Homo sapiens: one gene and its partner. The protein of the gene in region 1 purifies or fractionates together with the protein of each later gene. This does not show direct contact. Each region holds a gene or a part of one and is shown on either strand. Other genes may lie near its edges.

Region 1 (3,500 bases):
TATCCAGTCAGACTCCTCCACAATGACCCACTTCTTTATCAAACCTAGCATAGAAAATAAACAGGTTGAGGCTGGGCACGGTGCCTCAACATACCTGTAATCCCAGCACTTTGGGAGACTGAGGCAGATGGATCACCTGAGGCCAGGAGTTCAAGACCAGCCTGACCAACATGGTGAAACCCCATCTCTCTACTAAAAATACATAAAAATCAGCCAGGCATGGTGGTGGCCGCCTATAATCCCAGCTACTCAGGAAGCCGAGGCAGGAGAATCGCTTGAACCCAGGAGGCAGAGGTTGCAGTGAGCCAAGATCTGAGACTCCGTCTCAGAAAAAAAAAAAAAAAAAGAAAGAAAATACACAGGTTGAGCCCATTTCTTTGGATTTTCACTTCCTTATGAAGGCTCCTGTATCATGTAAAACTTACACTAAATTATACTTTTCTCTCTTCTGCCTTTTGTTATAGGAACCTCAGCCATGAACCTAAGATGGGAAGAAAGATAGTTTTCACCTCCTACATTGGCAGTGGGGCCTGAAGATCCGAGGGATGTCTGGGCTTGTCCCAGCGATGTGTGTGAACAGGATACAGAGGCAGGGGTGGGAAGCCAGAGGCATGAACAATCAGCCTGTACCTGCCTGCCACCACCCCCTCCCCAGGGAGGGCCAAGCTCCCAAGAGTCAGATCAACCCTAATTCAGCACTGCATTTCCAGGGTTCAATATATATGACCTCCACAAATGACACAATGGTGACTACAAATACATAAAAATGTACACTCAGACAGGGGTAAAAACTGCAGAGAAGGTAAGAAATTAACAGGCACACCAGGCGCAGTGGCTTATGCCTGTAATCCCAGCACTTTGGGAGGCCGAGGCAGGTGGATCACAAGGTCAGGAGATCAAGACCATCCTAACATGGTGAAACCCCGTCTCTACTAAAAATACGAAAAATTAGCTGGTGTGGTGGCGGGTGCCTGTAGTCCCAGCTACTCGGGAGGCTGAGGCAGGAGAATGGCGTGAACCTGGGAGGCGGAGCTTGCAGTGAGCCGAGATCGCGCCACTGCACTACAGCCTGGGTGACAGAGCGAGACTCCCTCTCAAAACAAACAAACAAAATTAACAGGCACAAGGGTCTTGAATGGCTGTTGTTGCTGGAAAGGTGCCTATGAAGCAAGGTTTCAGAAAGAACCAGAAGGGAGAAGCCTAGTCCAAGGCCACCTCACCCCAGGTCCACCTATCACTCTGAGGCCTGGTCCCCCTCTGTAAATGGGACAACACCCCTCCTGCCTTCTGCTCAGCACTGCTGTGAGGACACACGAGGGTGTGCAGGGCAGCACTTCTCTATTATAATTACATGGATAATCCACACGCTTCATAACATGTGGATTTGTATTCTGCTTTTCTCCCTTTCTCTGCCATAAGTGTTGCTCCAAGTGTGAAAAGCATTTTTCAAGATTCAAAGCACATCCCAATACAAAGCCCTTTTACATTAAAGATAATGGACACGTGGAGTAAGGGAACTCTGCCTGTTGTTCACCTGCCTCGGTCTCCTCACTTGCACCACGGGGCAAGAGGCAGCACTGGTGAGATCAGGCAGCCAGCCCTCCTGATTCTTCACCCTGTTTGAGACAGTCGGGGTCCACTCTGAGTCTCCCCTGTCTGTGTCAGTGATAGGGCTAGGCTGGTTGAATTCTGGGACTCTCTCCATCCCAGCTCCCCCAGGACGGGCTGTGACCCAGAGGGCATTCTGCTGCCTCAGCCGAAACTGGGACACTGGGAGCAAACTGCCCCCCTACCTTGGGAGGGTAGAGCTCATCAGGCACAGGAAGCCTGGAGTCACATCTTCTCCCAGGAGAATGCCCATCCTGCAGAGTGGGCTGGGTGGGGACCGGCTCCAGGGGAGGCTGGCCCACCGCCTCTCCATGTGGTGGGGCTGAGCCAGGGCTCTGTATGTGACCTCAGCCTCCGTTTCCCTGATGTGCAGAGTTCGGCTTTGACTCAGGGGCACAGGTATCTCTGGGGGTGAGGAAGGGACCCCGTGGAGTGTTAATTTTCCCACCCACCCCCGCCAGGTGTCAATGTCGATGACATTAAGGTTCATGCTGTTGGGGCTCAGGTGGATCCAAGGACAGGTGGCTGGGAGCAGGCCAGATCAGGAAGGTGGAGGAAGGCATCACAGCCAGTCCCTCCTGCTTCTGAGCCTCAGTGGCCCCATCTATCACATGGGGGCAGGGGTGGTAAACAGACAGCCCAGTGGCCACCAACTCAGGCTGACACACCCAGACAGAGGGAACGAATGAATTACACCACAGACTCCAGGGCCCCCCAGGAGGACTTTCACTCAGATGCCCAGGTCGGGGGAAGGAATGGGCATTTTGTTTTAAAGTTCCCCAGGGTTCTGTGCTCTGGACACGGTGTGGTACAGGGTGGGCAGACTGAGGCAGGCGAGGTGTTCTAAGGAGTGGAGGCTGAGGTTCAAGTGGAACGGGTAAGCACAGGTGCTAGGCCGAGTTCCCCAGCACAGGCCACGCAGGGCATGCAGCCCCACTTCCAAGGAGTCGGTAGGCCTGGGTGGGAAAGCTCCCCTCAGCACAGCAGCCACAGCCATAAAGGCCCAGAGGCGGGCATCACCTGGAAAGTGGGAAATCACATCCAGTCAAAACACGCTTCTACTTCAGCTGCAGAACAGCCCGGGTGCCCACCCGGGTGGCAGGACCTTCACTAGGCTGACTCACCAGGGGACCTGGTGGCTGCTCTCAGGACGCTGGGAGGGTGGGCAGGACAGCCGGGTTTGGGTGATAGGCAGTGAGCTCTGCCCTCTTAGGAAGCTGAGTGCACCAGACCCAAGCTGCTGGAAATGACCGAGGGAAGGTCTACTCAACCCTCTGAGCCTCTGCTTCATCCCTGTAAGACACGGGCTAACTCCTACCTGACAGGGGTTATGATATTAGATGACGTATTGTTTACAAGTCCCGCTTGGCCCTGCCTAGCCCAGCACCGCATGCAGGAGGGATCAGAGGTCCAGAGGGACAAGGGCCTCCAGAAGACAGAAGAGCGGGGCTGGGGCTGCACAGGAGCTGCAGCTATGCACCAGGGCTTCCCCAATCCCACAGAACCCTTAGCGGGAGAGCCTGGACTGGGGCTTGCAGAGCTCCTGTCTACAGCAGTGACAGGGAGAGGCTGGTTGAATTCTGAGACCCGGGGGCCTTGGCAGAGGCCGGGCACATGTACTGACCCTGAGGGGCAAACGTCTCTGTTGTCTCTGAGGCCCGGCAAGCTGGGGTGGCCTGCAGTGAGGGGTGACCAGGAGTGGAAGGTCAGTGTGCGTGTGGGTGCCGTTGGGGAGCTGGCCTGGCCTGTGCTCAGGGCTCAGCTCCCAGGCCTCATGGTCCTCCGATGGGGAAGAGGGGGCCTCTGCTTCCTGCTCGGGGAAGACAAGCCTGAAACGCCAGGGGGAGAGCTCTCAGGTAAGAAGACAAGGTTGGAGGATCACAGACTGGCAA
Region 2 (2,420 bases), on another chromosome or scaffold:
ATGTTTTAGTCCCTGGGTTAGGTGGTGGGTTTTGGGGTGGTTCATTTGTCATTAAAAGTAAGTACATGAGCTGGGTGTAGTGGTGCGTGCTTATAGTCCCAGCTACTTGGGAGTCTGAGATAGGAAGATCCTTGAGGCCAGTTCAAGGCTATAGTGTGCTATGATTTCACCTGTGAATAGCTACTATATTCCAACCTGGGCAACGTAGACCTTGCCCCCCTTTAAAAAAATTCAAAAACAAAATAAATGCATGGACAAATGAATAAGAGAGTTATGCATGGAACATCGGTGGTGTATTATGAATCAAGCATTATTACTAGCTCAGTTATATGTGCCTTCATTCCAAAACAAAAAATAAAAGGTAAGAAAATTGTTGAATTGCATTTGAGAGAGAGGAAAGGAAAGAATTCAGGTCTGAATCTTAGGCTTTTGGCTTGAGCTATTGCAGTTTATTGAGATGGGGAAATACATGGTGGGGAAAGTTTGGGTATGTGCATAACAGAGACAGAAATTCAGTGTTTGACAGATCAAGTGTGAGGTGCCCACTGAGCATCAAAGTGGATATGTTAAGCAGGTATTGGATGTACAAATCTAAATTCAGTAAGGTCAGTCCAGGAGAAAATTTGGGGAGTAGTTAGCCATGGGATCAGATGGGCGCTTTAGGGACACTTTGGAGATGAAGTACAGCACTGAGCCCTGAGTTCCTGTGACAGAGAAGCAGCCTGCAAAGACGAAAGGAGGAGCTGTTAGGAAGAGCAAGGCAACAGAAAAGGAAGAACCAGCATGCTGATTATGTTCAGGAGAGTGTTTCTACGCTGAATTTAATTGCCAAGATTACCAATTCTAAAGAAGAGGAGGACTCTTGGACAAGTTTTTAGAAGTTGGTTTGGAGCTGGGGTGAGAGCCTGGCCTAATGGAGACAGCTCTGGATTGGGAGTCACTTAGACCTACATTCTGGTCTAGGTTTGGCTCCCAAAAACTGGGAAGGTTAGTTAGGTGGCCACTCCTCTCTCTTCATGGTCTCTCTCAGCTTGAAGACAATTTACAGTCTTTGACTAAGCATCCACACTGGAAGAACAAGATTTGGTTTCTGAACATTGGGTCTTAGTCCTTAAAATAACTTGCAACCTGTTACGTCTTCACTTACTCCCATCGCCACCACAAGAATCCTGTGTGTTTTTGTTTTGTGCATCCAGTCTAAAACGGGTCTGCTTTTATTCATAGGCTTTTGTTTTCAGTGGTTTTTGTTGTTGCATTTTTCCCTAGATAAAATGTTTTTTCTATAAGACACTGCTTAAAAGAGTCCAATGCAGTATGAATTTGTATTTGTGTTTAACTTTTGTGCTTAACAGATCTGCCATGGCTGAACTCTCAGTTGCTTAAGCAAAATTCTGGGGCTTATTCTAGGTTCCTTTATTTGTCATTGTCACTCCCATTCCAGTTATCAGCAAATTCCATCAGCTGTCTCCGAGACATCTTAAATCTGTCTACCTCCCTCCATGTCCACTGCTACCACTCTGCCCAAGCTATTATCATCTTTCACCTGAACTCCTGCACTAATGTCTGCTGTCCTTGCATCCACTCCTGCCCTCCTACAATCACTGACGGCAGCCGCAGGGATCTTTATAAAACGAAAATCAGATAATGTCACTTCCCTGCTTAAAGCCCTTTGAGTGGCTTCCCATTGCACTTAGAAAAAAAAAAAAAAAAAAAAACTGGCCAGGTGCGATGGCTCATGCCTGTAATCCCAGCACTTTGGGAGGCCGAGGCGGGCGGATCCCCTGAGGTTGGTAGTTCGAGACCTGCTTGGCCAACATGGAGAAACCCTGTCTCTACTAAAAACACAAAATTAGTCAGGTGTGATGGCGCATGCCTGTAATCCCAGCTACTTGGGAGGCTGAGTCAGGAGAAACGCTCGAACCCAGGAGGCAGAGGTTGTGGTGAGTTGACATCACGCCATTGCACTCCAGCCTGGGCAACAAGAGTGAAACTCCGTCTGAAAAAAAAAAAAAAAAACCCAAACTCAATAGAAAATCAAGTTTTCATAGTGGTAGTTGTTAACAGAGAAATAACAATGAAAGCTTTAAAAAACTCCATGAAAATTTGCAAAACTTAAAAAAAAAATGTAGAAGAGGACTAAACTTGATAAAATATTAAAAGAATTGAAACCCTTCCTAAAGGCAGCTTCTCAAGGGAGCACAAGTTCACACACAGTTTACTTTTGGAGGAACGTCTGAGGTCATGAGGACTAGATTCTAGAGCTACAGGTCTCAGGGACAGTCTCGAGGGATACAGGGCCCCCATCACCACATCCCCAGATTTAACCGCAGCAGCTCAGCTTTTATCTGTATCTGTTGGAGCTCTCTAGGAAATGTCAATACCAAAGCAAACCCAAATCACAACTAGATTAGATTACTATT

What was found. Proteins that work in one complex are often made in the same cells at the same time.
Region 2: the proteins of KIAA0930 (region 1) and RAB3IP purify together in Homo sapiens (affinity purification with mass spectrometry, with the first as the bait; one large-scale study listed by BioGRID). This does not show direct contact.

What each region holds. Positions count from the first base shown.
Region 1 is NC_000022.11:45,230,895-45,234,394, forward strand, and holds part of KIAA0930 (uncharacterized protein KIAA0930), read right to left. Parts: intron 1-3,500.
Region 2 is NC_000012.12:69,818,860-69,821,279, forward strand, and holds part of RAB3IP (rab-3A-interacting protein isoform alpha 1), read left to right. Parts: 3' UTR 1-2,420. UniProt on the Homo sapiens protein: Guanine nucleotide exchange factor (GEF) which may activate RAB8A and RAB8B. Promotes the exchange of GDP to GTP, converting inactive GDP-bound Rab proteins into their active GTP-bound form.